Homo sapiens: one gene and its partner. The protein of the gene in region 2 purifies or fractionates together with the protein of the main gene of each other region. This does not show direct contact. Each region holds a gene or a part of one and is shown on either strand. Other genes may lie near its edges.

Region 1 (4,782 bases), on a different chromosome or scaffold from region 2:
CGTTCTTTTTATTCCTTTACTTTCTTCATAATGTTACTTTTACATCGCACTGTGGACTTGCCCTGAATTATTTCTTGCGCGAGATCCAAGAACCCTCAGTTGGGGCCTGGATCAGGACGCCTGTCCTGTAACATATTTCTGGCGACCACAAAGGGACTATAGTGCAGAAACCCTGACCCAACGGCTACCTTTGGGTAAGTGTTGGGGTCCTGTAACGTATTTGTGGTGGCCACAGAAGCGACTATACTGCGGAAACCCAGTATTTATGTTTAGGAGTCTCTCCTAAGACAGTGGGTTCGAGGCCCCTCTTAATAAAAGGCAAGGACGCTTAAGCTTGACTGACCTTGGGTTGGAGGCCCTTCTAAGATATAGGGAGTTAGAGTCCCTCTCAGGTAACTCCCTCTCAGCTAAGAACAGGTTTGGCACTATGGGATATTAACTGCTGTTCTCTTTGGATTAATCTGCCTTGCGCTCTTTGCTGATGGCTGTGGGTGACAGAGTTAGGCATGAACAGGATCGTGGGACATGGGGAGCTTTTTCCTCTCTAAAAGGGGAGTCTTTTTTTTTTTTAATTTAAGTTTTAGGGTACATGTGCACATTTTGCAGGTTAGTTACATATGTATACATGTGCCATGCTGGTGCACTTCACCCACTAACTCGTCATCTAGCATTAGGTATATCTCCCAATGCTATCCCTCCCCCCTCCCCCCATAAAAGGGGAATCTTGAGAGCTGATGGGACTGCTGGAAAAGGTCCCTTTGCTGCGTACAAGCGGCTGCCTGAGGTTTTCATTGTCGGCTGCAATGAGTGGGTCTTTTCTCTGGCCTCCCTAAGCTCTTCAGCTTCCCCACCCTGCCACAGGCAATACTTTTCTTATCTACTTTGCGTTTCTTATTTTTTCTATTACTCAGGGCAACCATCTTACCTAGAGGCCACATGTTGAAACTCCAAGTCGGAGGTTGAATTAAAGATGACAGGCCCATCTGGGGGCAAATTTAAGCCTTGCTAGTTTGATATTGGGTGCTAAGCGGAGTGGCTAATGTCTTTGTTTTATCACACGTATTTTGCTCTGGCCAGAATGGAAAAAACATAATTTTCCTTTATGATACGGCTTGGCCCCCAGGGCAATGATGCTGCAAGCTTGAACACTAGGACCACTAAGGGAAAGGGAACCCAGAAGCCTGGGATGCTGGCAAAAGGGTAAGAATGTATTACCAGTCAGATTTCTGGCTTCTCTCTCACTGTACAAATGGTTAAGTGAATGGTTAAAAAAAAAAAAATCAGCCTGGCACGGTGGCTCAGGCCTGTAATCCCAGCACTTTGGGAGGCTGAGGCTGGTGGATCCCCTGAGGTCAGGAGTTTGAGACCAGCCGTGGCCAACATGGTGAAACCCTATCTCTACTAAAAATACAAAAAATTAGCTGGGTGTGGTGGCGTGCGCCTGTAGTCCCAGCTACTTGGGAGGCTGAGGCAGGATAATCACTTGAACCCGGGAGGCGGAGGTTGCAGTGAGCCGAGATCGTGCCACTGCACTCCAGCCTGGCAACAGAGCGAGACTCCATGTCCATCTCAAAAAAAGAAAAAAAAGAACACCTGTAAGCTCGCTTTTCAAGATGACCCAGCAAGCTGGTCAGTAAGATACTTGGCTGCAGGTCCCTGTAACAAATAAAAGACTGGATGAAGTCTCCACCTTGTTTTACGTCCTTGGGAGCTTGACCTTTTAACCATGTGGTGGTACTTTCTTTTGGTCCCCACCTTCAGAGAACAGGAATTTCAGGATTCATGTCATAGTTAGCTCTAAAAATAATATTAAATAGTTAAAAGCCCTTATAAGCTCAAAATTAACTACTCTAGACTCCTTCTGGGAAGGTCAACAGAGACTGCCCTGTGCTGTAGCTCAGTAGCTAAGCTTTTGCACTTTCTTTTTTTTTTTTTTTGAGATGGAGTCTTGCTCTGTCGCCCAGGCTGGAGTGCAGTGGTGCGATCTCAGCTCACTGCAACCTCCGCCTCCCGAGTTCAAGTGATTTGCCTGCGTCATCTTCCCAAGTAGCTGGGATTACAGGTGTGTGCCACTACGCCCAGCTAATTTTTGTATTTTTAGTAGAGATGGGGTTTCATCATATTGGGCAGGCTGGTCTCGAACTCCTGACCTCAGGTGATCCACCTGCCTCAGCCTCCTAAACTGATGGGATTACAGGCATGAGCCACCGCACCCAGCCAGCTTTTGCACTTCCGTGGCAACAGTCCAGGTTCAATTACCCACCTAGGAAGTAAGTCGTTTCTGGTTTAATATCTGCATGACTTTGTCTATTCTCTTCTCCTCTGTGAACTGTCTTATATTTTCCTTTTTCTAAGCACCTGGGAGGTTACCTTTGATAAAATTCAAAAGCCAGAAATACCAGCCGTTTGGCATAAAAACTTCTAAAAGGACTTTATTAAAGAGTGCTATGGTTAAAATAAGTTTAATTAAAAGTGGATATTCAAGCTCTAACAGCCTGGACTCCTTGGGAAAAACAAGAGGCACCAGAGACCCCTTTCGTGGCCCTGTTCTTCCAAGGGCTCCACCCTGAAGCCGGTAATCCAATTAAGAAACTTAAAAACTGGCAAATGAAAAATCTTACAACCACTGTTATCATCATCATCTGTCTTTCTGTGTAGCTATATAGGTGTCGTGTGTAATATTTATATAAAAGAGCTCTGATTAATCAGCTTAAACAAAAATAAACATTTAAATCAAATATTTTGAAAGCAAAATAACTAATGCCTTTTAGTTCATGTAACTTTAGTAATCTTTAGGAAATAAACACATCTTTAAAATTGATAAAAATGTTAATCTTAATTATGCAGGTCAGATATTAAGTTTGTTAAATGATTTGAGGTCATAAACTGTTTCTTTGACTTTTAAAAATTGTTCAATTTACCCTACCTTAAAGCCATTAGATTCTAGATAAGGCCTGGGGACATGTGGAGTTAGCCACGCCCCTAAGCTGTGCTGGAGAGTCAGCTCTTATCTGCACTTCTGCCTGGTGTGTCCTAGGCTAGGCTCCACACCTAGTACATAATTAAAATTGCTTACTAACCAGGGTTTTCACCAAAAGTAAAAGTCGCTAAAAGTTAAAATTGGAACATGTAACTGAGACTATTGAAGAGACAGTTTTACATGTAAGGTGTGTAGTAAGGAAAATAGAATGTACTTTTGGTAAAAGATTATAAGAAGGCATGGAAATGTGGGGTTTTTTGGCTAAAGAGTTAAATAATTATTCTAAGTTGGCCGGGCACAGTGGCTCAAACCTGTAATCCCAGCACTTAGGGAGGTCGAGGCAGATGGATCACCTGAGGTTAGGAGTTTGAGACCAGTCTGGCCAACATGGTGAAACCCCATCTCTATCAAAAAATACAAAAGTTAGCCGGGCATGGTGGCGCACACCTGTAGTCACAGCTACTCGAGGCTGAGGCAGGAGAAGCGCTTGAACCTGGGAGGGGGAGGTTGCAGTGATCTGAGATTGCACCACTGCACTCTATCCAGCCTGGGTGACAGAGCGAGACTCCATCTCAAAAAAAAAAAAAATTCATACAGGAAGCATTATCAAATGTCAAATGGTGTTTTGCTTTCTTTGGATTATATTTACATAACTGTATTATTGGTATATGTTCCAAAGTTATGGGAAACTCCTATAATTCTAATATGATTTAGTGTATGTTATTAATAATTATAATTGTTATGCAAAATATTGTGTGCCACAGAAGTAACCAAATTTCCTTATCATTTCTGGCTTTAATAGTGGCTCTCCTAAAACTTTTTATCATCCACAGACAATTGTTGTCTTGTTTTAATCCTGTTTAGAAGATGATTTATAATCAGCTATAGAACTCTAGCAGGTGTTCTTAAATGCAGGTTTCTAATAACTTTGGAAATTGTAACATTAGAATAGAGGAAACAACTTTCAGAACTCATGAAGAGCTAGAATGTTCATGAATATCAAATGAAACATGAGTTAATTGAATCAACTGAACCAATAGAAAACTGAAGTAATCTTTGATTAAAATGTTGCTGATCCTTTGTTTTGTTTTTCAGAGTCAAGGAAACTTTTCATTTGAGCTATTTACAGTTCATAGCAATTGAGTAAAGTATACTGCTGTGAACGAAATTTGGAACATATTTGTTTCTCTATATCAGATTTCTCCAGAATTTGGAAACTAGTTGTGAGTATTCTTAACTTATGGCAATGTAATTATTTGCATAAGTGCAATAAGAATCTGTTTTCTTTTGTAACAGAATACAATTGGAGAAAGTGGTTATTTTACCAAGGCTTTGACTGAAATGGTGTGCTTTTCTTTAAGGAATCAAACTTGACTTGTAGAGCCAATAAAAGCCCTTTGGGGAACTGGCCTCATACCTTGCCTACACAGTGCCTGTACAGGGTTTCTGACCTATGGTAAGTAAAGAATGTCACTTTCTCACCTGTCCAGGAGCCCCAAGTTATCTTGGGACCTCAAAAGGAGAGAAATTTACCCAAGTTATAGGTATTTAAGGGTACAAACCCATGTCAGGGCTTGGCTTTTAAAAAAGTCTTATCTGAGATTCCTTATGAAACAGAGTTCCATCAAAGCCAATTAAAAAGCCTATGTGAAAAATTATTATTCTTGCTGCACTTTATACAAACAATCAGGCCAAGTATAATAAAGCAAGTCAGTCTTACCATAATTTGTCTTTAGTAAAAATGGGAAACTGGAGAGAGAAATACTATGTTTCAAAAACTATGGTACACTTGTTATTAAATT
Region 2 (5,573 bases):
TTTGGCCTCCCAAAGTGCTGGGATTACAGGTGTGAGCCACTGTGCCCAGTCTTTTTGTTTCGTTTTTTGTTTTTTGGCAGAGTCTTGCTCCGTCACCCAGGCTGGAATGCAGTGGCACAATCTCGGCTCACCATCACCTCCAACTCCTGGGTTCAAGCGATTCTTGTGCCTCAGCCTCTCGAGTAGCTGGGATTATAGGTGCCTACCACCATGTCCAGCTAATTTTTGTATTTTTAGTAAAGACGGTGTTTCACCATGTTGGCTAGGCTGGTCTTGAACTCCTGGCCTCTTGTCCACCAGGCTTAAGTGCAATGGTGCGATCTCAGCTCACTGCAACCTCCGCCTCCTGGGTTCAAGCAATTCTCGTGCCTCAGCCTCCCGAGTAGCTGGGACAACAGGCGTCTGCCACCATGCCTGGCTTAAATTTTGTATTTTTAGTAGAGATGGGGTTTTACCATGTTGGCCAGGCTGGTATTGAACTCCTAACCTCAAATGATCCGCCTGCCTTGGCCTCCCAAAGTGCTGGGATTACAGGCGTGAGCCACCGCGCCTGGCCTCAGCTTGGGTTTTTCAATGCAGATTGCTAACATGAATTGCTACTCTCAATTCCTTGAGAGAACAGACTTGTGAGGAGTTCTCCCGAGAAGAATTTTCACCTCTTCTTTGGTGTCCCCCCAAGCTAAGGCCAAGACAGACAGGCCTCCCAGGGACTCTTTCCACAGGCTTATTTCCCCTTCATGTAACTAGTGTGGGCGTTGCCTTTGGGGAGTCCTCAGTTCTATGCAGTGTGGTGAGGATCTCTGAGATGCCACTCTCCCTTGCTTGGAGCCTAGGTTTTCTCTCTTGTTCTCTTTCACCACCACGTGCATAACCCTTAAAGATCAAGTTCTAGCTGGGTGTGGTGGCTTACACTTGTACTTCTATAGCTTTGGGAGGCTGAGGTGAGAGGATCATTTGAGGCCAGGAGTTCAGGACCAGCCTGGGCAACATAGCAAGACCATGCCTCTACAAAAAATAAAAAATTAGCCAGGTGTGGTGTCGTGCATCTCTAGACCCAGCTACTCAGAGGCCAAGGTGGGAGAATCACTTGAGACCCAGAGGTCGAGGCTGCAGTGAGCTATGATCGCACCACTGTGCTCCAGCCTGGGTGACAGAGAAAGACCCTGTCTCTTAAAAAAATAATAATAATAAATAAAATCAAGTTATTTGCTATCTGGGATCAGCACCATGACAAACTACCAACATGAGTGCTGCCGGGTCAGTCAGGGTCCTTGCCCGGAGATTAAAACCACACCAGTTATTTTAACAGATAATTTGATAGAAAGAACCAGTAACTAGGTGTTACTAGAAGACTAAGATATGAGGGAGAAGCAACCGCAGGGAGTAGCTACCACTCCCAGGGTTGGGGGAACAAAAGAAAGGAGCAGGAATTATTGAAACGTAGATGTTTGGAAACTGGGAGGTGGGGCTCCAGGAGCTGAAATTCAGATCGTTTGAGGAGGGCTTCCTCCCCCACCGGCTGCTGAGAGGGGCTGAATGAGGCTGTTTCTGGAGGTATTGGGACACTGCAAACTGGATTCATCTGCTGCTGCAGGCAGGAACCACTGCAGCAGCAGAAGCTTAACTGGGGGTGATGCTCACAGGATCTGCAATGCACGAGAAGCTGGTCCTTCCTCCCTCCTGCAGCCTTGCAAACTCTCTCTCTTGCCCCCCCTATTGGCAGAGCCTGGTCACGATCAGCTAGGGAAGCAGAAAGGTGGTTTGCCAAGTGCGGGCCCAGATCACAGAGATGAGTTGTAGAGGGTAGGTTTGAGCTGAGAAACAATCACTTAATACTTAGTGCAGCTCGCCTGACTCTCTGGATTCTGTTTTCTCATTTCCAGCCTCTAGTAATTCCCCTTGCCTTTCCGCTGACTCACCTGTGCATTTCCAAAAGGTGTTTGAATATTGTGCCAGTTTACTGAATATTCTCTGCCGGGAAAGTTCCTTAGGACATGTAGCCCGCTGTATTGCCAGATATGGAAGACTCCATGGGAGAATTTAGATAAGGGTCGCTCACATCTGGAGGATAAAGAGATCCCTCTGGGGCCTGTGTCAGGGCAGGACTGACTCAAGGCCTAGAAACAAAGGGTCTGGAGACATCTAGGCCCAAGCTACATTCTAGTGACTCCCAGTCCCCTGTGTGGGCCCTGTGCCCTCTTCCCCAGCCCCTAGAAGCTCTCATCTAAGCCAACCTGCCCTGGTTCTCATGCACTGTGGCTTCTCCCACCCAGGTCCTTCTGGTCACCTCATCTTTCATGTCCCCTTCCGAGAGCCGCAGTGGCTCAAACCCCAACCGCGTTCGCATGTTTGGGCCTGACAAGCTGGTCCGGGCAGCCGCCGAGAAGCGCTGGGACCGGGTCAAAATTGTTTGCAGCCAGCCCTACAGCAAGGTACCTAGGGTGGGAGCCAGGGTGCAGAGTCCTTGGTCCTGGGCAAGGAGGGAAATAAGGGCCAATATTGAGTCCCATAGGGCTGGGAGGAGTAGACAGCTGGTGTCCCATGGGATTATGGGGAGGCTGGGTCCCTGCGTTCCCTGAAATGGGTTTGGGATCTTTCCTGTAATGAGAAGTTTCATCTCCCGGAGGAATCTAGGAAGGGTGAACTGCAGCATCTCAGAGGGGAATCGGAGGAGGGGAACTGACTTGTTAGAGAGGTGGCCTAGTAGAGTGGGCCTAGTAGTTAACATCAGGAGATCTGGCGTCTGATTACTGAGTTCACGTCCTGGCTATACCACTTTTTAGCTGTGTGATCTTGGGCAAGTGACTTACGCTCTCTGGGCCTCCATTGCCTGATCCTTACAGGGTTGCTGTAGGTTAAGGGATGCTAAAAGCTGTGGTAACAGTGAGACTGGAGTATGTGATGATGCCACACACTAAAGGTGTGCTTCTTGCCCAGGTAACTGTCCTGGGGAGTGTTTAGCCTGTCAGCTGGCTTCTCCTTATGAGGTCGTGCAGGGACCCAGACTTCTCCTATTTTCTGGCTCTGCATCCAGCTGGCAGAGGAGAGAGCCTGGAACACTTCTGTGTTCTGGAAGTGGCACGCAGCACTCCCTCCCATTCCACAGGCAGGAGTTTGTGCATAGGGCAGTGAATTCGCTGGGACACCTAGTAGACTCTGCCAATTGCCCAAAGAGCTAATGCGTGAAAAGGGCTTGGAGCCAGACTCAGAGTTAGGGCTCAGTCATAACAGCTTAATCCTATAATTGTCATCACCATCGCCAGGGCCCCTCCTTCAACATGGGTGTTCATGAGAGGGAAGGAGCCAGGAAGAGGTTTCCCTGAGTGAAAAGGGTCTTGGGCCCTGGCCTCTGTCCTTGGGCCAGACTCCCTGACTCCCACCCCTCCTTTCCCAGGACTCCCCCTTTGGCTTGAGTTTTGTACGGTTTCATAGCCCCCCAGACAAAGATGAGGCAGAGGCCCCGTCCCAGGTAAGCTGTACCTGTCACTCCCCATGGCCTTCTCCCTGCCTCTCCACCCCCACCTGCCAGCAGCCCACCTATAATACTGACCTTGCGGGACCTTAGAAGGTGACAGTGACCAAGCTTGGCCAGTTCCGTGTGAAGGAGGAGGATGAGAGCGCCAACTCTCTGAGGCCGGGGGCTCTCTTCTTCAGCCGGATCAACAAGACATCCCCAGGTGAGCTCGGACAACGTGGGTCCTGAGTGAGTAGGGTTGAGACCTAGACTCGTGGGTCTGAGGGTAGAGGGGGCTGGGGCTCAGATTCCTGGGTCTGAGGGAGGAGGGTAGTGGAGTCCTGGACTCCTGGGTCTCAGGGTGGAGGAAGGTGGGCCTGGCCTCTTGTGTCCTGAGGGTTGAGAGGTCTGGAGGCTGGGACTCCTGGATCACTGGTGGGTTTTGGCAACAATATTCTGTGTCCCATAGATAGGAGTGAAAGGGTCTTGGGGCTCAGCCCTCTCATCCTGGATCCACTTTCTCCCTTCATAGTCACAGCCAGCGACCCAGCAGGACCTAGCTATGCAGCTGCTACCCTCCAGGCTTCTAGTGCTGCCTCCTCAGCCTCTCCAGTCTCCAGGGCCATAGGCAGCACCTCCAAGGTGAAATCATCAGACTTTGGTGGGGTGGAGGAGGAGAGAAGCTGGAGGCCTCAATCCATCCCCATCCCCTCAGCCCCAGGAGTCTCCCAAAGGGAAGAGGAAGTTGGATTTGAACCAAGAAGAAAAGAAGACCCCCAGCAAACCACCAGCCCAGCTGTCGCCATCTGTTCCCAAGAGACCTAAATGTGAGCTAACTAGATCCCTTGTTTCCACAGGGGCCTGTGCTCCTGTGTCCTAGGGGAAGCGGGGCTGGAGCCTGCTGTCCTGAATCTGAGGGAGGAAGGGCTGGGGGCCTGGACCCCTGGGTCTGAGGGAGGAGGGGCTGGGGGCCTGGATTCCTGAATCCGAGGGAGGAGGGGCTGAGGGCCTAAACCCCTGGGTCTGAGGGAGGAGGGGCTGGGAGCCTGGACCCCTGGGTCTGAGAGAGGAGGGGTTGGGGGCCTGGATCCCTGGGTCTGAGGGAGGAGGGGCTGGGGGCCTGGACTCCTGGGCCTGAGGGAGGAGGGGCTGGGGGCCTGGACTCCTGGGTCTGAGGGAGGAGGGGCTGGGGGCCTGGACCCCTGGGTCTGAGGGGGGAGGGGCTGGGGCCTGGATTGCTGGGTCTGAGGGAGGAGGGTCTGGGGCCTGGACTGCTGGGTCTGAGGGAGGAGGGGCTGGGGGTTGACCCCCAGTGGTGCTAACCTAATCTACTCTTTGTCTTCTCCAGTGCCAGCTCCAACTCGTACCCCAGCCACAGCCCCAGTCCCTGCCCGAGCACAGGGGGCAGTGACAGGCAAACCCCGAGGAGAAGGCACCGAGCCCAGACGACCCCGAGCTGGCCCAGAGGAGCTGGGGAAGATCCTTCAGGGTGTGGTAGTGGTGCTGAGTGGCTTCCAGAACCCCTTCCGCTCCGAGCTGCGAGATAAGGCCCTAGAGCTTGGGGCCAAGTATCGGCCAGACTGGACCCGGGACAGCACGCACCTCATGTAGGCTTGCGCCCCCCTCCCTGCGCCGCTGCAGTTTCTCCCCCAGCTCCCTGTGTCTCCTCCACCTTGTGCTTTCTCTGTGTCCACTATGCTGCATGCTTTCTCTCTCTCTCACTTGCTTTCTTTCTCACTGCATTCTGTAGCCTTTGTCTTCTCTCTGATTTTTGCATCTCTCCCTTGGTCTCCAACCTCTTTTTGTTTCTCCCACCTCAATCTCATGATCTGTCTGTCTGTCTGTCTCTCTCTCTCTCTGTCTGTCTCCCCTGTCTCGTTCCCCTTTGCCCCTCAGATCACACCTAACTGGCATCTTCACTTCTGCCCCCCACCAGCTGTGCCTTTGCCAACACCCCCAAGTACAGCCAGGTCCTAGGCCTGGGAGGCCGCATCGTGCGTAAGGAGTGGGTGCTGGACTGTCACCGCATGCGTCGGCGGCTGCCCTCCCAGAGGTAAGGCCTCACACGCCAACCCTGCTCCTTATCCTGTGCTGGGCAATGCCAGGAATCTGGAGGGGA

What was found. The genes of interacting proteins can lie anywhere in the genome.
Region 1: the proteins of XRCC1 (region 2) and ATF1 purify together in Homo sapiens (co-immunoprecipitation; one large-scale study listed by IntAct). This does not show direct contact.

Annotation. Positions count from the first base shown.
Region 1 is NC_000012.12:50,765,954-50,770,735, forward strand, and holds part of ATF1 (cyclic AMP-dependent transcription factor ATF-1), read left to right. Parts: intron 1-97; exon of another isoform or gene 98-194; intron 195-735; exon of another isoform or gene 736-1,200; intron 1,201-4,782.
Region 2 is NC_000019.10:43,551,505-43,557,077, reverse strand, and holds part of XRCC1 (DNA repair protein XRCC1), read left to right. Parts: intron 1-2,273; coding exon 2,274-2,432; intron 2,433-3,394; coding exon 3,395-3,469; intron 3,470-3,565; coding exon 3,566-3,677; intron 3,678-3,986; coding exon 3,987-4,096; intron 4,097-4,169; coding exon 4,170-4,281; intron 4,282-4,802; coding exon 4,803-5,061; intron 5,062-5,390; coding exon 5,391-5,507; intron 5,508-5,573. UniProt on the Homo sapiens protein: Scaffold protein involved in DNA single-strand break repair by mediating the assembly of DNA break repair protein complexes. Negatively regulates ADP-ribosyltransferase activity of PARP1 during base-excision repair in order to prevent excessive PARP1 activity.